Linked DNA regions of Homo sapiens: all the other regions are linked to region 2. Evidence: fine-mapped expression QTL. A gene starts in region 2. Each other region holds a variant in brackets. All regions are shown on one strand. Distances are between the middles of the regions. Region 1 overlaps FBLN2 (fibulin 2). Region 2 holds the start of FBLN2 (fibulin 2). Region 3 has its middle 32 kb from the start of FBLN2.

Evidence for each region.
Region 1: its variant is fine-mapped to the expression of FBLN2 in tibial nerve (GTEx, PIP above 0.99). The same link has a PIP of 0.9 or more in thyroid.
Region 3: its variant is fine-mapped to the expression of FBLN2 in thyroid (GTEx, PIP 0.99). The same link has a PIP of 0.9 or more in tibial nerve.

Annotation. Positions count from the first base shown.
Region 1 is chr3:13,634,094-13,642,265 of GRCh38, reverse strand. It overlaps FBLN2 (fibulin 2), which reads right to left. Exons shown (of 18, transcript NM_001004019.2): 17 at 5,698-5,821; 18 at 3,862-4,704. The coding sequence ends at 4,347. Among named protein-coding and RNA genes, the nearest start is that of LINC00620, 13 kb to the left of the region's middle. The variant G/A (reference allele first, on the strand shown) is at 3,937.
Region 2 is chr3:13,545,607-13,553,778 of GRCh38, reverse strand. It overlaps FBLN2 (fibulin 2), which reads right to left and starts at 4,654. Exons shown (of 18, transcript NM_001004019.2): 1 at 4,571-4,654. RefSeq lists enhancers at 2,076-2,682, 2,683-3,291.
Region 3 is chr3:13,513,143-13,521,314 of GRCh38, reverse strand. No RefSeq gene overlaps it. Among named protein-coding and RNA genes, the nearest start is that of FBLN2, 32 kb to the left of the region's middle. RefSeq lists enhancers at 2,154-3,043, 4,417-5,345, 8,092-8,172. The variant G/A (reference allele first, on the strand shown) is at 3,760.

The sequences.
Region 1 (8,172 bases), 88 kb before region 2:
CTGGCAGCAGACGCTTGAGGTACTATAAAAGTGTGGCGATGGGAGACAGTGCACGAATTTGCACTGCCCACTCACACTTCTCCCGACCAAGGGACACACTTTACAGCCCTGAATGTCCCACAAGGGGCAGAGCACTCTCATCCTTGGCGTAAGGTTGGATAGAGAACTGGAACATGTCATGGATACTGGTTGTCTAAAACAGAGGTGGTGGGGCAGGAAAGAGTGACTTGCACGCCATCACAAGTGTGTGTCCACCCCAAACATGAGAAGGGCCAGGAGAGGGTCCCTGCTAGATAGAGTCCCACACCTCTTCTTTTCTGTTTTTGTTTTGTTTTGTTTTGTTTGAGTCTCACTCTGTTGCCCAGGCTGGAGTGCAGTCATGCGATCTCAGGTCACTGCAACCTCTACCTCCCGGGTTCAAGCGATTCTCCTGCCTCAGCCTCCCAAGCAGCTGGGATTACAGACGTGCACCACCACATCCGGCTAAATTTTTTTTTTTTGTATTTTTAGTAGAGATGGGGTTTCACCATATTGGCCAGGCTGGTCTCGAACTCCTGACCTCAAGTGATCCACCCGCCTTGGCCTCCCAAAGTGTTGGGATTACAGGCGTGAGCCACTGTGCCTGGCCTCCTATGCCTTTTCTAAGAGAACTGGGGAAGGGAGGTTGCTGGTAAGACTGCTTTTCTTTTCTTCTCCACATCACCTCGCCTTCCTCCTTTCCTATCTGCTGCAGTGGCCCCAGGACCAGGGCTGCAGCTGCAAGTGCTGAGGTAGCAATGACTCCTAGGCAGGAGGGTGCACCTCTAGCTCCAAAGCTTCATGCCAGAGCTCCTGAGGGCTGATGGAGTGGATGGTGCCTTCACCCCATCCGGAAAAATCAGGGCTGCTAGTGAGGGCAGGCACATTGCCTGGTGGTGGAGACAGCCCACTAGTTCTACACCTGTGAAGCCCCATCCTACACCAACCGGAGTGGACTGTCAGGGAGGCACTTGCTAGGCTGGCATTGCTTCTGACAATCCGGCCCAACAGCATGGCCGAACCTCATGGCCCTTCCAAAGGTGGAAATACCTGGATACAAATGGAGAAAAGGAGGAACCGGAGCTGAGGGTAAAGCAACCAGTACGTGGGTTATGTAGTGAGGGAAATCCTTTTTTTTTTTTTTTTTTTTTTTTTTTTGCGACGGAGTTTCGCTCTTGTTGTCCAGGCTGGAGTGCAATGGCACAATCACAGCTCACCACAACCGCCGCCTCCCTGGTTCAAGCAATTCTCCTGCCTCAGCCTCCTGAGTAGCTGGGATTATAGGCATGTGCCACCACACCCAGCTAATTTTGTATTTTTAGTAGAGATGGGGTTTCTCCATGTCGGTCAGGCTGGTCTTTAACTCCCAACCTCAGGGGATCCGCCCACCTCGGCCTCCCAAAGTGCTGGGATTCCAGGCGTGAGCCACCGCGCCCGGCCGGGAAATCCAATTTTACGTGAATCCTACATTACAGTACTACCTTAAGAGCGGCGTGGAGGGCATCGTCTCAGCTCAACTACACTAGATGCCTGAAAGGGTGACGCCAAGGCCGCCTCTGCTTTTGGAACTTGACAAGGTCGAATGGCAGCCTGCAAACCTGAGTGGCCTCACCCTGGGGGACATCTGCTGATCTGATGTGGTGATGGACTAGATAAACTGCTATGACTGAGTGGGACTCCGGTCTTCCTTTTTAGGTGACATCCACCAGACTGCAATATGGTCCTACCTGGCACGGTTGATAAGGTTATAACGTTGATGGTGATGGCAAATGTATTGAAACCCTGAGTTCCAGCCTCCTCAGGATGTAGCAACGATGGAGAATGACACCTGCGGAAGAGCTAGGTGGAGCCAACCCCGGGCTAACGCCTGCACACGGTGGTTCTTTACATGCTTCATAGGCACGGGCAGCCCTGCCACAAGGGAGGAAGCAGGCAACGCTGAAGGAGCTGCCCAGACAAACGTGACTATTCCACTGCGAGAACGCTGGGGCCGGGGCCGGGGGTGGCCTGCAGGGTGAGCTCTCGGCCCCCAGAACGTCCTGGCTGGCACTGGAGTACCAGCGTTTTCAGGGGCTTTGCTGCCTCAGTTCTGACCTCTGCGAGGGACTGGAGACTTAGGGCCAGCCACGCTGACAGCCAGGTGGTCAAGCTCCCAGACACACCTGGACCCCAAAGGTGCCCTGTTCAGCTCTATTCTGTTGTGCTGCATCCTGAGGACACGGGAGCTCCGTGACTGGGCTCTCCTGGACTCTGCTCTAGAATTCATCAATGACTTTAACCTGCTTCCTTTCACCATAAACTGTCTGAGTCATGCAGGTGAATTAATGAGCCTGAGGGTGGATGTAAGGACCCCCAAACCTGTAGCCCATTGCTCAGACGTGAGGGTGGTCCTAGGGATGCCTGAGCTTGTTTCTGGTGTGCAGTTCTTGGTCTGCAGTGAGGGTAGTCTTGTAGGGGCTATTCCCTGAAGCTGCAGTTTGCCAAACTTGCCGGCATGGAATTCTAGAATCACCTTAGAAACTCTAAGGTCCGGAGAGAAGTTGTTCTCCAAGACCCTCCGTATGGATGCGCTGGGTGCCAAGTTCATTTTACTGGCTCGATGGCCTGTGCAGGAAGAACAGCTGGAGCCCCTGTTCACAGGGGAGACCAGTGAGGGGAGGCGAAGTCACTTGCCTGAGGTCCCAGAAGGAGTAACCGGGGCTGGGTAGGAGCAGGAACGGCTGCTGCCAGCCAGGGGTGTCCCTAACCTGCCTGTCCTGTTGAATGGAGCCTGTCACCTACTGGTTCCCGCTGGTGGGGACTGTGCACCACAAAGGTGCCGGATCTAGTTTTTCTGAAAATCAGCAAAATAGAAGGAACAGAGACAGCCCGGACAGGGACAGGGAAGACCTGGCTTCTGCTGCACCCTTGGGGATGGGGGCCGGCGAGGAGCAGGGACAGAGGGCCCCCACCGCAGGCTTCCGGCAAGAGGCTCCCAAACACCTGTCCTTTAGAAGCCTGAGCAAGTCGCCACCTCTTAACACTGAGAGAGTTTGTGTTGAGGAATGAGAACATCTGGCCATCCCGGGCCACGCGCCCAGAAGGCGGCCTTGCTGGAGCCAAGTGTAGGCGCCCCCTTCACACAGGGCATGTGCTGCCCAGCGCGCCCCGACAGGCCTGCTTCCCTCCACCCACAGTGAGAAACACTTTCTACCAAAAGCCAGAGCTAGCGTGCCCACGCATAGGTGCACACGCCCCATGTACTGTGGTTTGGTGAAGCAGTTCTTCTCTTTACAGGGTGTGAAGCACTCATATCTCATCTGCTCTATTCTACGTCATTTTAAAAGTGCTGGCTGCCGCCCCCTATATTTAACTCTAGACCCACGGAGCCCGAGCAGGGTCATCAGAGCTGGGTCCCGACACCTGCTCTGATGCTCGCTGTGGGCTGGGGGCACATCGCTTCCGCTCTCAGGGCCTCAGTTTCCCAGGTTCCTTCAGGCTCCTGCCCAGGTCTACTGCCTGACCTGACAGCTCAGCAACAGGGGCCAGGACAAGTTCTGGACAACATCCAAGTGACAGGCCATCAGTGGAGGTCTTCATGGGGGGAAGGCAGAGGAGGGAGGAGGGAGGAGGAAGGAGGAGGGAAAGCTGAAGTGGTAAAAGCAGAATAAAGAGCCTGGTCAGTGACTGATCACACTGGGGTGCCCTCATCCCAAAGTGAACTTCAGGTTCGGGGCTCGTTGAGAAGGACATCAAGGTCTTCATCAATGAATTGACATGCTGGCCAGGCCATAGAGCCCTGTGACATCTGGACAACGTTGTCAAACTCTGAACACTTTACAAAAGTAAAGGGACCAAGAGGCGTTTTCCTCTGTTACTTTATAACCCTTTCATACTAGTTGAACTTTTTTTTATATAATGTACATGTACTACTTTATA[G/A]TTAAACAAAAAACTTTAAAATGATTTTTTAAAAAAGAAAAGAATTAATCACAGTGGAACATGAAATGGAATGTCAACTTTGGGGACGGGTCATCCAGAGGAGTCCAAGAGCCCCAACATGGTCGCGTGTCTCTGGTCCTCAGGTCATCACCCAGCCTCACCCACAGGGCACCCGCCACGGCCGTGGCCCACCGTGCAAGCTTCCACTTGGTGCCTGCGTGGGAACGCACCACCTGCCGTGGAACTTCCTCCTGCGGGGCAGAGGAGGGGTCCAGAAGCCACAGGAGTCAAGTCAGCAAAATTAAGTTAATTTACAAAGTTATAGTAAAAACCACAATAGTGACCCAGTCCCTCCCACGCAGTGTGAGCCCTGGGCTGCGCCACACCCGCAGGTGGCCCGTGCTGGCACCTCACAGGGCAAAGGTGGTGAAGAAGATGTGCATCTTGGCCAGGAAGGTGGTGACGGAGCCCTGCCTCCAGAGCTTCATCTCCACGTCCAGGGCAAAGTCCCGGGGCTCCAGCACGGCCCGCTGCAGGTAGACCACACCCGTGTAGGCATTGAGCCTGCGCGTGCCAAAGTAGCCCTCCTCATTGCCCTTGATGATGTTCAGGGCGATGGTGTCCCCCGTGAAGGCTGGCGCGGGGCCAATGCGGAAGATATGCGCAGGCACCAGGAGGCCCGTCTGGAAGTTGAGCTGGTAGTGCGTGATGCGCGCTGGCGAGTTCTGGCACTCCAGGAAGTCATGGCACGTGGTGCGCTCGCACTTCCTGCAGGGAGGATAGGCCGGGTCACCCACAGCTCGCCCACCCCCCTCATCCCCAGACGGGGACACAGATGGCACAGCTCAGCGGCAGGATCAAGGGCCAGCTCTCTCCCTAATGGCCGGGAAGCCTCAGGCAAGTCCCCTTACGTCCCCTGGGTCTCAGTTTCCTTGCCTGCGAGATGAGGTTAATAAAACCTTCACCGGCTCACTGGAATGGGTGAGTTTAGCATGGCACTGGCCAGGCTCGTTAACAGCTCTTACCTGTCCCCATGCTCCTTTCTTCCTCCCTCCTGCCATCCTCCCATTCTTCCTTTCTCCTTCCTTTTCCCTCTCCCCTTCCCTTCCTCCTCCTTCTCCCTTCTTCCCAGTGCACCCAGTGTCCCTCCCAGGGTCCCTCCCAAGTGCCGGGCCGTGTGGCTGGTGGCAGAGTAGCGGTCTGTCAGTTCTGAGGTTAAGTGAGGTTAAGGGGCTGCCGCTGGCACTTCTGATACACTGAGCTGGGGAGTGGCATGTCACAAGCAGCCTTGTGGAGGGGCTCATGTGATGCGGAGCTGAGGCCTCCTGCCCAGAGCCCCATGAGCAGTGGCAGGATCCCGCACCCCGGACAGGCAGCCCCTGAGATCCTGAGCCAGACCACCTAGCTACACCACTCCCAGGCTCCTAGCCCTCAGACACTGCGTGACAAAGAGTAAGTATCTGTTGTATTCTGGTGCTAAATGTTGGTTGGGATAACTGGTCACACAGCAGTAACTACCATGTGTGTGTATGAGGAAGAGGGCTGGTGTTTTCTGTGTGTCTTTTCCCCTTCCTTCTCTCAACCCTGAACTCTCTAAAAGCTACTTATATTTGTTTTGGTCACCTAGCCCACAGACCCAGCAGTCAGGGGCTGGGACGAGAGGGAGGTGATCAAGGCAGGCGCCCATCTCTCAGCCTCTCCCTGGATAGTACAGGACCAGGACAGGCTCCCTGGGACTGGGACTGGGGTGGGGACACTCACGTTTTGGAGACTTGGACATAGTTGGGAGGACACTCGAAGCGCAGGCAGCGGAAGCTACCCTGGATGTTGTGGCAGGTCTCAGCCTCGGAACAGTTGTGGGTACCCAGTGCACACTCATCCACGTCTGGGGGAGAAGAGGGGCAATGGCAGGGTCCCCACAGCTGGGGGACCCAGCCTGAAACTCCCCAGCCTGCATGAAAGGCCTGGGCCCCACGGCAGCCGGACCTGTGAGAATAGCCCGCGTGCCTCCCTGCACACACATGCCCCATCTCACCTGCTCGGCACCCCGCAGCAGGGGGCCTGGCTCTAAAGTGTCAATCACCTCATGTCATGCCCTCCCAAGGCTTCTCGCGCTCCAGAATAAAGCCCAGCTCCCTCCCCTGGATGCCAAGCCACACAGTGCAAGGCTCTCTGGCCTCTCTAAGCTCCTTCTCTTCCACAGAGGCCACAGTCCTGCTGGACATCCTTGGGCTGCCCCAATAGCCTGACCCTTATCCTACCCAGGGCCTTTGCTGCTGCTGGAACGCTATCCCCAGCTTTTCCTACTGCTGGAGGCTTCTCATCTTTTAACTCTCAGATCTTGAGTCACCCCCTCCAGGATGGCCTCCCTGACCACTCTACAGTGGTCCTCCTGCCCCATCACCCTCCATCCCACCCCATTTTATCATCCTCCTATGGCTCCATGCTCTGCAACACACCGAGGCTGTTTGGTATGGCTGCATGTTTTGTATGTTTCTACCGTCCCCCCTCAACCTGGGCTCCAGGAGGGCAGGGGTGTTTGTCTTTCTCATTCCCATGCTGTCCCCAGTGCCCAGTGGAGTGCCTGCATGGAGCAGCGCTCAATACTTCTTGCTGGATGGAAGTCCAAGACCCATCACTTGCAAGTCCCGACTCCGAGACGCAAAGCTATGAGTCAATGTCCCCCATGAGCAACAGACGTGCTCACGCTTCCTGTACATTCAGAAGCAAACATACATGTGCAACTCCAACAGGCACATAGGTTCAGCACACACGTGAGCACACGCACACCTCCACAGGTGCACAGAAACAAACACACAGAAGGCCCATTTGGGACAAAGAAACATACACATATAAACGTCAACAGACATATGAATAGATACCATTCACGAAAGCTCAGAGAAGCAGGGGTGGGGTAGGGGTGTGTGTGGGTGTGTGTGTGTGTGTGTGTGTGTAACCCACAGGCACCCTGGAGGACAAAAGGTCTTAGAAATGGGTTCTTGAGAAACTTTGAGGATGAGCTGCTCAGCCCAGAGAGGGCCGCCTCAGGAGGCCTCCAGAAAGTCCCGTGGGGTAGGGGCAGGGGGTGTTCCAGGGGCAACCACAGAGGGCTTCAGTTTTTGTTTTCCAATCCTCCATATTGACACCATTTAGGAATTTGTCCTCACTCAGTCCTCACACCAGCCCTGTGCAGCGAGGGTCACTGGCTTCCTCAGACAGAGGAGGGTGTGGAGGCTCAGAGAGGGGCAAAGCCTTGCTCAAGATCACACAGCAGCGAGCGGGGCAGCAAGTCAGGCATGCCTGATGCCAAAATCTGGGACCCAGTCATGATGCCAAGCTGACTCCTAACAATAACAACAACATAATAGTAATAATACCAATAGTCAGCCTGCCTCCAGAGTTTACTGCCTGACATCCCTGTGATGCTTGAGGGACTCTGCACCCACGCCAACCCCACGGGGCAGGTGCAGGTGTCCACAAATGTGCCCAGGGTCACATAGCTGCCAGGGCAACGCCAGGACTCAATACCCCCGGACCGCCTCAGACTCTGGGCTCTTGGCTGCCAGGCTCTCTTGTAGCGGGTCAGCTCACATCTATTTACCTCTCCAGGCCTCACTTCCCTCCCTCCGTAAAATAGGCCCCAGGGTGGCGCAGAAGTGAGTGGGAGAAAACACGGCAAGAGGCCAGGCAGGGTAGAGCCCAACCGGGTGGTCCCAGGCTGCTGATTATTCACTCGTGGACTCCACATGGAGAGGGCCTCCTCCTGCTCCTTGGCCTATGCCCCCGGTGGCCCGCTCCAGTGACCCTGGAGCTTATGTGGGTGGGGCAGGAAGGACGTGGGAGCTTTTTGCTTTGGCTCTGGGCTGCTGCTGATGGAGATGCCCAGAAGGGAAGGGCCAAGAAGGGTGAGCGGCTACAGCCTGGCCTCACCAAGCTCGCGGGAGGCGGTCAGTCGCAGGTCTTCCCTAACGCCCCAGGGCCTCGCCCATCGGCGCTGCCAGGCCCCTGGAGAGCGCAGGCTAACGTGGGAGCTGGACTAGGCCCCGTATCCAGGGCTGCCATCACAGCCTCATCAGAGACAGCCAGGGTCAGCCGCAACTCAGATGTGCAAAAGTGGGTGACAGAGCAAAAAGGACGAAACAGGGGAGTCCTGCAAAATTCAGCCCCGGAAGAGAGGCTTCCAAGGGCTTCTGAAGGACTTGAGGCCCAGAAGCCCACAACAGCTCAGGGGCAAGA
Region 2 (8,172 bases):
TCACCAGCACACAGACCTGGGCGGGACGCACTGGCCGCCTACAATACAGCCCCTCTCAGGAAAGCCAGGCTCCCCACCCTCGAGGAAGGAAATAACCTTTCCCCAAACCAGCACTTGCTTTGCAACAATCTCCATATATGAGGGGAGAGAGAGGCATTTCTGCAACGTTTCCAAATTCCAATAACTGAAGACAATGGCACAAAATGACGCACGGCTTGACCCACGAGGGGCCCTGGGAAAGGACGTGCCCAGCTGAGGCGAGTTTGTGGTGTGGGCGTGCAGTGGTGCCCCGTACACGAGGGCAGCTCGCCAGGCAGGACCTGGAGGTGGACGGAGCTGGCTCCCGTCCCAGCTCTTCCTCCTCAGTCGCTATGTGACTGCAGGCAAGCACGCCCCACTCTGCGCCTCAGTTTCCCGGCCCTGTCACTCTCACAGGTCTCCCACCTGCCGCCTTGTCCTCTCCAGGCCCACTCCTACACCTGGGCTGCAGAGGGACCCTTCAACCTCACAGTCTGGCCGCGCCTCCTCTGCTCGGAACGCCCTGAGGCTGCCTGTTGCTCGCTCGCAGACCAGGACTGGAGGGCCTCCGTTTTCAGGGTCTAGTTGGCCTTGCCAGCCTTACTTCCCACTCTTCCTCCAAGCCCCCACTCTGAAAGAAGCCAGGCTTTCTTCTGTCCCCAGGTGCCCCTCACCCCTGTACCTTCATATCACAGTGCCTGCGCCACCTCCAGGAAGCCCTCCCTGACCACCCAGGCTCAGCTAGATGCCTCCTCAGTTCCCATGGCTTCAGCGTTCTCCTCCAGGATGGCCCCGACAAAGCATTTCAGAGCAACCCATGCAGGCACCCCTGGGGATGACCTTAAAAGGGGCCCTGTGTTCCGCTCCTCTGTACACCAGCCCCTGGCACAGCATTGGCCCACACCAGAGGCTACTGCCAGCACTGTGGGGTGATGAAGAGAATCCAAGGCCCTGGGCACACTCCCTGGCAAAGGGTTTCATAGAGCTGCTAAAGCAGGAACGCCAACTCCAGGGAGCCCCTCCCTGGCCGCCCCCACACAACACCCAGTCACAGCTCCCAGCCCTCCCGAGGTGAAGCCACAAACCCACTGCTCCCACCACCCTATAATGCCTGGCTGGAGGTACAGCCCTGTGGTCCCCTCTGCCCCTGTAGCATACAGGAGCAGCGCCTCTGTCTGGTCTATTGGGAGGGTAGACCTCTGCAGCCCCAGCATTCAGAAGGCGCCCTGGAGGCAGAGCTGCCTGCAGCCACACGGACACCTGCACCACCCACACTCGGGGACCTGGGGAAGGAAACTGGATGACAGAGGGCTGCTAAGGACCAGAAGCCATGCATGGTGTTTACGTCCACCACCGGGCAGGACAGCCGGCCTCACCCTGGCCTCCCCTTTCACTCACTCCACTTCCAATCCATCAAGAAATCCTGGCAGCCCCACCTGCAAAGTCAGTCCAAATCTGACCACTCTCACCTCCAATGCTGCCACTGCCCTAATCCAAGCCCCAACTTCTCTCACCTGGAAGCTGCATGGATCCCCACAGCTGCCCTCCAGCCTGTTCCCTGCCAGCAGCAGTGTGGGGGAAGGGACCTTTAGGATCTCAATTAGACCCCACCCCTCCCCAAACCAGAATCCACCAGCAGCTCCTCATCACACCCAATCACCTGCACCTGCTGTGAGTGAGGATCACTTGAGGCCAAGAGTTCAAGATCAGCCTGAGTAACAAAGTGAGACCTCATCTCTACAAAAAATAGAAAATTAGCTGGCTGGTGTGCGTCTGTAGTCCCAACTACTTGGGAGGCTGAGGCTGGAGGATCACTTGAGCCCAGGAGTTTGAGGCTGCAGTGAGCTGTGATCACACCACTGCACTCCAGCCTGAGAGACAGGACGAGATCCTGTCTTTAAAAAAAAAAAAAAAAAGGAGGGGCCGGGCACGGTGGCTCACACCTGTAATCCCAGCACTTTGGGAGACTGAGGCGGGCGGATCACGAGGTCAAGAGATGGAGGTCAAGTGGCTGTGCAATCTTCACCTTAGGCCCGAATTTGCTGCAGAGAACCCAGTTTCACTTACCATCAGCATGCCCCAAGCATTTACGAAGCACCTATTGCGTGTGAGGTGTGGATGGGCTCAGGGCACTCCCCCCACGGCCAAGGAGACCAAGTCCTCCCACTAGTGGCTCAGTAAGAGGGGCAAAGAGCTTTGCTTTGGAGGGAAAAGATCCTGGGCTGAACCCCAGCTCTCCCCCTTGCCTGCTGGGAGGCCCTTTCTCTACCTCCCCTTCCCCGTCTCTTAAATAGGTGCAAGAGTTCCACCCTGCAGGAGGGATGTCGGGATCTGGGAAGAAAAGTGATGAATAAAGCCTGCCTCGGAGAATGCTCTCTGGCATGAGCTCTTGCTTCACGGGGTCCCCATACCACCGTCCCCCACAGCCTAGCAGGAAGTGTCTGCCACCATCACAAAGATGCCCTGTGGCCCAGGGCCCTGGGCACCACTCATTGCTTCAACGACTAAGGCCTCGAAGGGTAGGAGGCCCGCCCAGGGCTTCCCCAGCCATGCATGGAGGACCAGCCTGGGCCTATGCTTGAGGCGGGCAATGGAGCAAAATCAGCCCAATGCATGCAGCAGTCACAGCCGCACAAAGGCCACGCAGGCCAGGCAGGAGCTGAGAAGGCATGAGAGGGCCAGGTGGGGACGGGGACCAAACAGCGCCCCTGCCCCATCCCCTGGGTTGGGGGTGGGCAGCACCAGCCAGGAGATGCAGATCCTGAACTACCAGACCTTGTGACTTTTCAAGAGAAGACGGAAATCCGGACTTTTACGTGAAAACTGCCAATTTGTAAATGCAGGCAGCTAATTAATTTTTTAAAATAATAATAACATGGTGAGAGCCAAACAAAACATGCAGGGCCAGCCACAGCCGGGGCTGGCAGGTTTGTGCCTCCAGAATAAGATTCTTTGACTTCATCCCCTGCTCACCCCCATCACACAGCTCAGCTGCAGAAGGGGAGGGCGGGAAGTCAAGGGTGCACCCCAGGGGAGTAGCTCCCCCTCCCTCTCTTCCTCCTGCTGGGGAGTCTTCACCCCATTTGGCATATGGGGAAGTTAAGGCCCAGAGCCCCTATCAGCCACAAACACACACCAGCTCCCAATCCATGCCAGGCTGAGGGAACACTTCTCAGCTGCCACCCAATTCATCAGGGCTCCCTCTGGGAGGGCCCGGACCAGCATCTCAGGGGCATCAGGGTAGACACAAGCACCCAAACCATCCTGTTTGACTTCCCTTTTTCTCTTTTTGGCCTGTCAGGGGACGCCTGCTGGCTCAGGCCTGCTTGGGACTGGCCCAAGTGATCACTGCAAAGCTGATATGGGCAACTCCTTGTGGCAGCAAAAAAGGGAGGGAGGGCACCCCTATTTCGGAGACTGGAGCAGGGGAAGGGAGAGAGGATGCACGGAGGTGAGGAGTCAGGCCCAGCCTGAGGCTGAGCCACCCCCATGCTCCCCACAGCCACCCAGGTCCCATGGTAAGCAGCCTCTGTCAGGAGGAACCACCTCCCTCCTCCAAAATCGGCTCCCCACCCCCTAGGACAGGGGAGGACTGCCCATGGAGTGCCAGGGGGGCTGGGACTGTGAAGTCGTGGGGGTCTGTGACTCGTATGTGAGACTCACAGTGTGTGGCACTCCCAGTGTTTGTGATTCCAGGTATTTGAGGAGCACACGCATGTGAGAGACACATGTGTGATACATATGATGGAGATATGCATGTGATAGCTACCCCTGTGTGGCGGACGTGTGTGCGTGTCAGAGGGCAGTAAGGGCACATGTGTTTATCAGAGACACAACTGTCTGCTAGAGGCATGCCTCGGAGGGGTGCCAATGTGCAAGGCATGTGTGTGTGGAGCATTGTGTGCTAAGGGGACGTGAGATGAGTGTGAGAGATTCTGGCCTGGGGGAGCTGGCGGGGTGAGCATGGGGCTGGGAGAGGGAGGATGTGGTGACAGGCAGGGTGGGCGCGCCAATGCAGAGCGTGCAGAAACTTCTGCTTGTGTGAGTGCGTGTGTGGCGGTGAGTGTGACTTGGGGGTGATGGAGGGGGTAGTGTTAGACCAGGGACTCTAGTCTTCTTTCCCCGAGGGGGTTGACCCGGCCCTCTGGACTGGAGGGGCGGCAAGGTCCTGCGGTCGGGGTGGGGGTGGGCAGTGGGACCAGAGGGGATGACTGGTGGGAGCCGGCCCAGGGGGGAGAAGTGAAACCCAGAGCGGAGGAAGCTGCGGACCTGGGGTGGGGGAACCCGCCCGCGGACCCCTGGCCCCCACCCCGCGCCGGCCTCTGTGCCCGCATCTGTACACTGGGTCGCGGCGCTCGCGGGCCGTCCCCGCGCTGGGACCGGGAGAGCGAGACCCGGTCGGACCGGCGGCGCGGGTGGAGGCGCGGGCAGCCCGCGAGGCGCGTCCGAGGGTCCGCCGAGCCGTCGGTGCGTCCGAGCGCCCCCGAGTCCTGAGCTGCGAGGCGCGGACCGACGGGGATGAGTCCGGGCGGGAGGGGCCGCGTGCACTCACCGCGGGGCACTGCGCTCGGCGTCCGTCCGTCCGTCCGCCCGGCCGTCGGCGCGTCGAGAGCCCGGGCGGCCCCTGGCTGTGTGCGCGCGGGGCGGGGCGGAGGCGCGAGAGGCGGGACCAGCCGGCCCCCGGCCCCCTCCCCTGACTCCGCCTCCGCCTCCGGGGCGGGGTCTCGGCCGCCCGCCGGAGAGGGGGCCGGGCCGGCGCCGCTCGCTCAGAGCCCAGACTCGCTGACCCGGCTCCTAGAGGCCGCCCGGCGCGCTCGCTGCGGAGCCCGCACCCTCCCTGCGCCCGGCCTAACCTCTGAGTGCCAGACCTGGCACTGCTGCCCACAGGGCAGGGCCAGGGGTTGGGGTCCGGCCACCTCAGCCAGCCTGAGCCTCAGTGATCACCCCTGGAAGATGGGCCCAGCAGCCTTGGGCACATTGTGAGGGCCTGAGGGGCCCGGCTACAAAACTGCCCAGAGGCCAGGCCCTGCCTCCCACCCGCCTTGCTTCCTACCCTGGGGGCCTGCCTGCAGCCCCACTGCTGCTGCATGTGCCTGGGCAGACGGTACTGAGCCCCCAGCTTTGGAACAGGTTCAGTTTGTCCTTTTCCTCAGCCCAGCTCTGATGCCTGTGACCACTGTGTGACCCCCGGGGTGTCTCTTCCCCCAGCCCACACCGATCCCTTTCTGGGTCTCTTTCGGGGTCTCCATCTCTGATCTAATGTCATCTCTCTGTCTCCCTTGGTTTGTCCCTCTTGGTCTCTGCATCTCCCTCTGACTTTATCTCTTGGTCTCTGTGTCTCTCTGAGTCTCTCCCATCCCTGTCCAGAGACGTATGGCCTGGTGGTCACCACCTCACATCTGAGCAGCAGCCATGGGCCCAAAGTGTGCCTGCCCCCACCCCCAGGGGTCTCCCTGCAGCCCAGGACAGGGGTGAGGCAGCCAAGAGCAAAGGCACAGGGCAGGGCAGCTGCCTGCCCAGGGCCGCACAGCAGAGAGGAGGTGGAGCCAGGAAGGGCCCATTGGCTTAGATGGGGCCACCCACAGAGAAGCCAGGAGCGGATGGAGGGGCCAAAGCCTGAGCTGGCAGCCTGTGCCTGGCCTGCCCCAACTTGTGTCTAACCCCAGGCAGGTGCCTTCCCTCTGGGCCCGTTTCCCCATTGGAGCTCTGTGCTTGCTGTTCCCTCAGGGCCTTTGCCATTGCTGTTCCCTCTGCCTGGGATGCTCTTCCCCAGATCCACCGTGGCTGACTCATCCCTGCATTAAGATGCAGCTGAAATCCCACCACCCCCAGAGAAGCCCTCCCTGAGACCCCAGCAGAGGTAGCAACTACCACTCTCCACCCTGGGACTCGGCCGCACTGTTATTACAGTACTTGTCACTGGCTGATTTCTCTTATTCATTTATAAATGACTATAGGTAGGATCACCTGGTCATTAAGAAAGTCACCACACACCAGCTGTGTGACCTTGGGCAAGTTACTTCACCTCTCTGGGCTTTATTTCCTCAACTGTAAAATGAACATAACGACATCAAAGCCTATCTTATAATGTTATTGGAAAGATCAAATGAACCGAAATGAGCCAAACCGAAAGTACAGATGCTCCTCGATTATAATGGGATCATGTCCCCATAAACCCATCGTAAATCGAAAATATAGTAAGTTGAAAATGCATTTCATCCACCTAACCTACAGAACATCATAGCTCAGCCAAGCCTACCTTAAATGTGCTCAGAACACTTCCATTACTAGCCTACGGGTGGGCAAAATCATCTAATACAAAGCCTATTTTATAATGAAGCATTGAATATCTCATGTAACTCATTGAATACTGCACAGAAAGTGAAAAACAGAATGATTGCCTGGGGATTCCAAGTAGGGTTTCTCCTGGGTGTGTACCACTTTCTCAACATCCTAAATTCAAAAAATCCTAAATCGAACCATCGTAAGTCAGGGATTATCTGTACTTTGGATGGGACTTGACCCAAGGGAGTGCTCAGTAAATATCTGATGAGTAAATGACAGATTGAATCCTTCCTCCTGTGGGGGAAGGAGGGGCAGTGGCCTGGGGTGATAGAGACCCTGGGCAGCTGCTAATGAGGCTCCCTTCCCCAGGCCTGGGAGGAGAGGCACTGAGCCAGATGCAGCTCACTCTGCAGCCCAGGGAGCCCAAGGCCTGGCCCGCCTTCCACAAGATAAAGTGGAGACACTTCTCCCGTCCTGTTATCTGAGCCGGAGATGCGGCCAAAGCGGCTGTCCCTTCAGAGCCCTTCCAAGACTGTTATCGCAGACAGAGCACGCATCACCCACCAGGAATTTGGGGCCCAGGGCCTGGCTGAGAAATGGTTGGAGGAAGTCAGGCTGATAAGGCCTAGACAGAATGATCACAGTGGGCAGCGAAGTTATTTACATCAGTGACAATCTCACCAGCTCCCTGGGCACTGAGGCGCCAGGGCCAGCAGGCATGAGGCTCACTTGTCCCACCTGTGCAGCCTGGATTGGGAAGAGAAGCCTTGCTGAGCTTCCTGGGTCTGCATCCTCACTGGGTAGCCTTGGGGAGGCTGCCTACGTTGGAGCATGGGTTCTGGGACCCAATGGCTTTGATTTAAATCCACATCCTCCCTGTATGACCTTCAGCAGGTGGCTTCAACCCTCTGGCCTCAGTGTCCTAGCCTATAAAGAAGTTCCTGCCTTATAGGATTGTTTTGAAGTTAAGATGCTTACAGCAGTGTCTGGTATATCATAAGCCCTCCATTAAATGTTTGTTGTTGTTAATCACAAACAACATTAACTTGAGCTGTTTGGATGAGAAAAGAAATTTGTGATCACAGTGTGCCTGGAAACCAAGCTTCGGGGAGAAAGGCCCAGTGACAGGGCCCAAAATCTCGCTGCCCACCTGGGTGCAGACAGCGTGAGGGCTGCCCACTCCTTGAATGGTGGGCCCCGGACTCCCCGCCAGGACTTCTCCCCAGCTCCCTCCAAGGGTCACAGTGCCTCTCCTTCCCCAGCAGTGGGTTCGGCCCTGAGCCTGCTTAGTCATCTCTCCCACCTCCCATTTGACAGCAGCTGCAGCCACAGTGGGGGCAGTGTGGGTCTCCCATCTGTCCCCAGTTGCAAGAGATACTAGGAAAGTCAGTGTCCAGGCCCCCCAAGACCCTCGAGGGGAAGAATTCCACACGATAGGAAAGATATCTAGACATAGGCCCACCTCCCCCAGGGGACAGCCCCACCTGCCATCCTGCTGCCCAACGAAGACCCAGGACACCACACCCGCTCCCAGGCTTTAGAACAAGGCTTCTCAGACCTGGCAGTGCATCTGAATCACCTGGGGAATTTCTCTTTTTTGTTTTTTTTTTTTTGTTGTTGTTGTTGTTTTGGAAATACCACTGTCTAGACTCTACTCCAGAACAATTAAATCCCAGTCTCCAGAGGGTGGAGTTGGGCATCAGTACTTTTTTTTTTTTTGTAATCCCCAGTAGGTTGTAAGATGTGCTGCCAGATTTGAAAAACACCACTTGGGGTACCTCCCTCTAGCCTTCCTCTTCCAGCTTTGTCCCTCCCCAGAGTGAAGAGTCTAAGAGAACAATGAGATGTGCCCGCCAGGAGTCCCTGATG
Region 3 (8,172 bases), 32 kb after region 2:
ATGGAGAAAACAGTCAAGAACCAAGGCCTGAGTGGAAGGGTTCATGCCACAATGGGCAGGTGTATGCTGCTCTCCAGGGTCTGCGCTGTATGTTTTTATTTCAGAAAGTTTCTAGCAGAAGTAGAGAGCGTAGTAAAATGACCTCCCTTCTCAGGAACCCCCAGGTTCCCTGCCCGGGACAGCTGCTCTTCCCAGCAGCTCACACACTGGCCCCTCTGGGAGTGGGGCTTCTGGCCTGAGAGTCCAGTGTCCCGTGGGGCTGTCAGGAAGGGATGCTGGTACCAAGCAGTCACCCAGAGTTCCTGGCTACACTGCCAGCCTCTCCCTGGGCCTAGCAGGGTCATCTCTGGATTGATACCTGCCTTGTGGGGCTGAAGGGGTGGAAAGGCCTTTGGGGGCAGGGACATGCAGGTGGGGTGGGGGCCCCCTGAGGTAGCTCAGCACTGTCTCACCCCAGCAGCACCTGGGCGCCCAGGGCAAGCGCCCTTCCTCCCCTCAGCCTTCTCTGCCCCCTGCCTTGGAGTCCCTTCCATCCAGCAAGTTCCAAGAACAGCCTGGAAAGAGCAGGAGCGGGGAGACAGAGGCCTAGGGAGTGTTGGGACTTGTCAGGGCCACACAGCATGTGCAGGGCAGGGACTCCGTCCTTCTCCATGGGCCTCAGTGTCCCAGTGTAGGCGATCCAGGTGGTCTTCCTCATGACAGAAAGGAGGACACACTGCAGCGGGGCTGGCTGTCATTTGCAAACCGCCTTGTGGTTCCTCCCTCCCATTTCACAGATGAGGAAACTGAGGGTCGGGAAGGAGGTGGGTTTCATTTGGCATCACACAGGGAGGCCAAAACAGAAAAGCCTTCAGGCCCAGGATCTCTATTCTTCCCTGGAGATGGGACTGAGGTTTCCTGAGGACAGAAGTTCCAACGGAAGGCAAGGAGGGGAAAACACTATGTTGATGTTGCTGTTTTGTTCTTTCACTTTTCCCTTGTTAGCCCTACTCTGTGCCAGGCCTTGGGAGAGGGTTTAGCCAAGTTCATGCTGGTGTTTTCCTCACAACAGCTGTGGGAGGAGGGAGGCTCCACCCCATTTTACAGATAGGGAAACTGAGACTCAGAGAGAAAAGGTAACTGGCTCAAGACTAACAACAAGCAAGTAGCAGAGCCAGGGAGGGGCCCAGGTCAGGGGCTGGGGAAGACCAAAACAAGATGAGGCCTGAAGTGGGGAGAAGGCATCCAAAATACCAAAGCTCTTCCCTGTCCTCAGTCTCCCAGGCTTCTAGCCATGGCCACCCACCACTTCTGGAAGGGGCCTGCTCTCTCGTGCCCCTGGGCTTTTGTACATGCTGTTCCTTCTGCTTAGAATGCTTAGCTCAAACGTCTCTTCCTCCAGGAAGCCCTCTTGGGCTGGAATAGCTCCTCAGGCCGAAAGCCCCTGAGCTTTCAGAGCACTGAGTTTGCTGGGCTGCTCAAGGGTGGGCTAGAAGCTCTGGGTCCAGACACTTGGAGGCTCTGCAGCCAGTGGACCTCTCTAGGAGGAAGAGAAGCTGATGGCTTGATTCTTGTCGGAGCTAGAGGACTTGCAAGCTAGCATGGAGCTCCACCCACGCTCTCCATGTTCCTGCAGCTGAGACAGGGGCTGCGGCGCTCTGAGGTCCATTGGGGTCGCTGTGGGTGCCCAGCTCCCTGGCCCCGCCCCAGCCCCAGCAGTCTCTCCAATGCTCAGGCTGCAAATGGGTGGGGACTCCTTGGGGACCTCATCCCACCTCCTGACGGGGGACCAAAGAGGGAAAGGGCCCCCAATCTCAGCCTGGCTGCCTCTTGGGAGAGGAGATGGAGGAGAATGGGGGCAGAACTCCCGCAGTGCTGGGAGAGGCCTGCCAGGCAGCCAGGGAGGCAGGAGCGGCAAAGATGGGGTTTCGGGGTAGGGGCAGTGCAGTCTCAGCCTAATCCTGTGGGTATCGGGCGGCAGCATCAGCACCACTGCAGGAAGGCCTTCCCAACAGACGCACACACACCATTGTCCCACTCCCCAGACTCTCCGTGTTTATTTCCCTCTTGTCCTCATTAGAATGTCTTCCAAACAGTCCAGCCCTGTGTGTCATAGGACCTGGGGGCAGGACTTCCAGTAATGCTGGGGCCAGGGTATCAGAGGAGGGAAGGATACCCGGCCTCGCCCACCCCCAGAGGTCTGGAGTCATTGGGGAGGGAAGAGGGGACTCTGGAGACAAAGTCAGCCGAAGCACTGTCACCAAGCTTCCCCCAACCCAGGAAGCCGCCCCTCCAGGGTCAGCCTCGGGGAAGGGAAGGACCAGCCCTGAGGACAACTCAGGGCTGAGTGTGCGACACCCAAGGCACAGTGAACCCAGAGTCCTGGTCTGCGAGGCCCACGGGCTGGGGCCTGCCTGGGTCTCGCCAGCCCTCCCAAGGCCTTGGCCCCAGGCCCTGATGCCTGGTCCCAGCTCCCAGGCCCTAGACTCTGCCAACCCTGGCAAGATGCCCTCCCTCCCCTCAGCAGGCGCCGCCTTCCTCCCCTAGCCCAGGAATTGCCCCATGTGTCCAGCCACACGAGGAGCTCCCGGAGCTGGCTTTGTCCCAAGCATCCTTCCAAGCAGAACATATCTGCTCCCGCCTGCAGGCTTCCCCGGGCCTCCTGCCACCAACCCTTGGGGGGGCAGCCACAACATTTGTGCTGAGCCCAGGCCGACAGTCCCTGGCACTGCCTCTGCAGGCGGGTGCCCACTCTTCACCTCGTGCCCGAGAGACCTTGGTAGAACGCTGGCCGAGCCTCCACCCTGCACTTTCTCCTCCCCACCGTCTGGCCTACATTCCTGGGATGGACCCAAGTTCCCATAGGCAGAGAATCCATCCCTGGGCTGGCATCGTTTGGGAAAAGCATCAAGGACTTGCCTGGAGGTATCCAAGGACTCCGAAGCAAGTGCCAGAGCAAACCCCACCCGTGCCTGCTTCCTTCCTCGGGCCCTCTGGATGGATAAGGGGAGGTGGAGGAAGACAGAGGCACAGAGGTCAGACTGCAGACCAAGCCTTTGGTGTACATGACAGCCAAGCTTTACCTCTACGGCATTGTGTTGGTGGCATTACTGTCCCGCTTTATAGAAGAAATGGAGAAAAAGAGAGAAAGGACCTGCCCAAGGTCACACAGCCAGGAAGTGGCACAGGCAGGATTGAACCCAGGACCCATTTTCAATGCCCCTGAAACCAGCCTGCCATGCTTGGGGCCTGAGCCTCACTTGAGCGGGCATGGGAAAGATGGCAGCCTCCTTCCCATCAGTGGGTAGGGCTGGAGGTCGATGGTCTTGGACCCTGGATTCACAAGGACCTTGGAGCCCAAGTCTCCACGCAGTAGCTGCCTCCTCCTGGATCAAGTTTATTAGGCCCTATAACTGGGCTCCTGCCTCAGTTTCCCTTGCTGCCTAGAAGGCTGGGTCCTGCTGCTCCTCCTGGGTCCAGGAGACAGTTCCTGTGTGGCTGTCCTGACCAAGGTTACAGATCCCTCACCTTCCTTCTAAGGTGGCTCCTGGTGCTCACTAAGCACATGTGAGCACCCTGGCCCCGGACCCCACCATGTGCCTCCTGTCCTTTTTCCTGGGCCTTGAGTTGGAAGGGCAGCAGGGACAGAGGGCTCCGCCCCCGGTTTCTCAGTAGAGGTAAAAGATGGAGGCCGACAGAGGGTCAGGGCCTGCCTCAGGCCACCCAGTGCACAACCTGGGTCAGCCAGGGACTGTCCCAGGCCTGGGAGCTGCAGAAGCC[G/A]AGGGGAGGGTGGGGCTGCCGGGGGCTGGGGCTGATGACTGCTCTATCTTCCAAACAACAGCAGCAAGGGATGGCAGCCAGGCTGTCGGGACAGCCTGTTCCCATAGCGGGGCCCAGGGGAACCTAGCCTGACCACACCTCGGCTATGCCGGGCCTGACATCTGTGCAGCTGCATCGGGTGACCCAGGCTGGCCCTGTCCCTGCTCAGTTCCTCCGAGGGCTGCAGCATGGCAGTAGCCCAGGGCCCGCGGGTCCACCATTTCCGCGGCTGATGGGGCTGGGGGTCCTCCCCGAGGTCAGGGGACCCATCCCCTGCCTCTGGGGGCACCTGCCAGGCTGGTGGAAGAAAGAAGGGGAGAGAAAGCTGAGGAAGCAAGGGAGGGAGCTGCCACCCACTCCGCTTCTACTTCCTGCAGCTTCTGTGAGGGGCTGTCACCTCCGGAGGCTTGCTGTGGGTGCACATGGTACGCAGAGACAGTGGACGTGGCTGGCCCACACCAGGCAGCTGTGTGCGGCAGAACCCTCGCATCCAGCCTAGAGTGCCTATAGCAAGGGCTGCCATCAAGACCACTTGCTTCTGGGCATGGTTCTGAGTGCTTTACATGAGCTGACGCATTTATTCCTCACAGCAACCCCAAGAGGCAGCTACTAATATTATCCCCATTTTATGGATGAAGTAAATGAGACTGGGGCGGTTAAGTCATTCACCTAAGGTCAAAGGAAAGTGGGCCCTGACCAGTGCCGTCCAGTTTATCCCAGTACCGGTACCCCTGTGGATGGAAAGGGTGAAGCCTGTTCCTCCCACGCCCACTGATGTCTCCTCCAACACCGCCCCCCGCCTCCCCCGCCTGGCCTGGCTGCCAGCAACTCCTTGGACGCTCCAGGTGGAAAAACAATTGTGGGGCTGGCTCGGGTGGCTGGAGCAGCCGGGAGCTCCAGGCTTGGTGTCCCACCTATGCCAAGCCGCCAGAGCAGGGTGGGGGATGGGAGCACTTGCTCAGGAGCAGGGTGGGGATTCAGAGGAGACGCTGGGGCCCACCAGGGATGGCAGAAGCAGGCCTCTACCCCGGCCTGGCCAAAGTCGGCTCTGGGCCTGCTCCCCACAGTCAGAAGGGCAGGGGGAGCCCCCCAGCAGGCACCAGCCAACTTCCCTCCCGACTGGAGCAAATGACTGAGTCTTTACCAAGCGCCTACTAAGCACCGCAGGCCCTGTTCCGGGGGTCGAGTCAGGGACAGACCCAATCCTGCCCCTTTACTGCCTGGCAGGAAGAACAGGCAAGGAAACACACAGTCTCAAGAATGCTTGCTTGTTTCAACTCCCTGGGGATCTCAGTTTGAGCTGAGGAAACTGGGGCTCTGGGAGACGAAGTGAATCGCCCAAGCACTCAGCAAGGCCGAGCTGAGATTCTGAGCCCTCGTGCCTGGGCTCTGAACTCACCCAGATCCCACCTTGGTGCCAGCTGCTTCTCATTGAGCACCTACTGTGTGCTGGGTCATTCCCAGGCCCGCCCGACCCTCCCAATGGCCCCCCAGGTGGGTATGGCCATTGCCATTTTAGAGAAGCGGTAGCCGAGGCTCCGAGTCGGGGAACCACTTGCTGAGAGTCACCTTGCTGGAAAGGGACCCCACCCCAGAGTGTCTGACCCCAGAGCCCACAGCCTCCCCCAGACTTTTTCTGGAAACTCCTGGCATTTAGGGGAGTGAGAAAGAGCTGTCCTGAGCAGGTCAGAGTGGTGTCAGGGATGCTGCCAGTGGGGCCACCTCCTACACTGGGGACAGCTGGGGGCTGGACCTTGGCTGACACTATCCTTTTACAATGATACGTTATTCATCTAGCTTAAGCCACACAGATGAGAACTCTCTAGATAATTTTGGTCTTTCCTTTTAGACAACAACACAGTTATAATTTAACTATTTTAAGAGGACATGAAGTCTACACAATGTCTTCTCTGCGTTAATTACCATGGTGAACCATTTTCAGGCCACAGACCAGTACAGTGAAGGTCTTGGTGCTCAGTGAGATAGGGAACGTTACTTGCACCTACACAAATGGCCCCAAACTGATATTTTGTTGTTATTCTTGTTCTTATGTCTGCATTTAACGGTTGTTCTGTCTCTCTCTTATTGTTGAGCTGTTATTTCTAAAAGCGCTAAGGGTTTGCTCTGGAAAGTAGAAAATAAGCTTGATGCATCTTGTGAGTGTCTGAGTTATCAATGGTTCTGCTGTGAGCAGAACTTAACAACAAAGGGAATTCACCAAAATAATAAATTACACCAAGTACTTATCGAGCTAGAGAAGCTCTGGGGACTCAAGGATTAAAATCAGGGTCTTGATTATGGCATGGTCACTAGCCTTTGCAGCAATTGTTTGCAAATTAGAAAAAGGCTCCACTTCTTCAAAATACTTTACTAGTGCCTACTAGAAAATTATTTTAATCAATACACAAATCTACTGTGATTACCGTGTAACAGCAGCCTCGAGAGTTGTGCAGTGCACAACCTGTGCAGATGCTCATGGCAGCCCTATCTTGACATCACCAGAATTCCCTCTTTTCCATCATGTTTTTTCTTTTTCTCCCTTCGTTTTACTATTTCATACCTCAGACAGGCTTTCTGTTTGTGGTGGGAAATATGGCTTCTCTAAAACTTGATAACTCAGAAGATAAAGTCCTTCCTCTTCCACTCAAAATGTAAAAGTAATGTAAGGACTCTTGAGTCACATGATATCTCTAAACCATCCCTATGATCAGGGAAATGGAAAGTGTATCAGCCAGGCTGATATCAGTAAGGTTATGCTGCAGAAACAAACCACCCTTAAGCATCAGGAGCTTAAACAATCAAGGTTTATTTATCGCTCACACTGGATGTCAGCCCTGGTTTGACTGGGAGACCTGAGTCATCTGGGATTTCAGGGACCCAGACTGTCGGGGGCTACAGCTTGAAATGTGCTCCCTCCATCGCTGTGGCAAAGGGGTTGTGGAGAATCGCACACTGGCTCTTAAAGCTTCCACTTGGAGGGCACACAAGCCACTGAGCTCATGGTTCATAAAACAAGTACATGCCACGTCTAGCCATGCAGGGGATGGAGGTGCAGGCCTGCCCAGCCTGGAAGAAGCCTGGTCTAGGGTTATCTGAGCTTGAATCACACACTTACACAGCCCCTGGAATCATAGCCTAGGTGGGCAGGGCACTGTGACTGTTCCAGCCTGGGACTGGGGAGAGGGAGCTCTTCAAGGAAGCAAGAAGGATGTCACCTGGCCCCAGGCAACCATGTAGGGCAGCTGCCAAGACTCAGCCAGCCTGGAGCGGCCACACCCAGCCTCTGGGCACTGCGGCCAGAGGAACCCGAAAAACCCAAAGGGACAAGAACTCCAGGGAAGAAACACACTCCGGCCCCGCAAAAAGCATGGGAGCAGCTGGACCTGAAGACATCTCTTCTGCCCGCAAGAGAGGCTTCAGATGTGCAGCCCTGGATGTGTTCACACCCTCTGGAGGCAGCCATGGGTGGGCAGAAGCGCCGGGTGAGTAAGGACCAATCATCCACATCCCCTGGTGTGGCTGAGACCTTCCTAAACTCCTGTACCACACTTTCCAGCCCGGTTTTACAGAGCAGGCTACTGGGGCTTGGATGGGTCAAGGGACCTACTTAAGTTCACAGAGCCAGCTGGGAAACCTGCATGTACCAAACACCTACCACACACCAGGCTGCATTCCATTCTCAGGAGTTCCCATCCCCAGGACACAGGAGAGAAAACGCAGAGGCCGGGCACATCGCAGTCAGGCGGGCCCACCCCCGAAGCATCTGCCCTCCCCACATCACTCTCTAGGTAATGGGGTTGGGAGGGACCCTTTGGGATTGGGGAGCCAAGGGGAAAGAGCAGCAGTCCTTTTTTAAAGGACGATGAGTGTGACACGTGACCAAGGAACTCGTGCACCAAGTGGGCGTCTGCCGGCTCGTGTTTAAGGCACATTCCTGAGCTCCAAAAGGAGAAATAAAACTGTTCCCTTGTCTGTGAGCTGAAGAGGCAGCAATATTGTGGGGTAACTAGGACCAGATGGGCTCCAGGAATTTCCAAAGGCCTTTTAGCATATTAGACAAAATAGCCTCCCAGACACACACGGTAACTTTGTCTGGCCGCCTGGTATCGGTTACCGAGACAACCGGTGGAATGCGCACACTGGCTGGAGGGTCCCAGAAGGGAGCGGGCCTCTGGCAAGGCCCCTGCACACTCCCCACTGCCACAGCAGGAGCCCCCCTCACACTTGATCCCTTCCCTCTGGTTCCAAGACCAGGGCACACCCTGAGAAACTCAGCCTCTCAGGGTTGGCAGGGGCTAGGAAAGTCCCAGAAACTGGGAAGTCCCAGATGGTTCCCACAGCCCCAAGCCTCCACTTGCACCCCTTTGAGGGGTG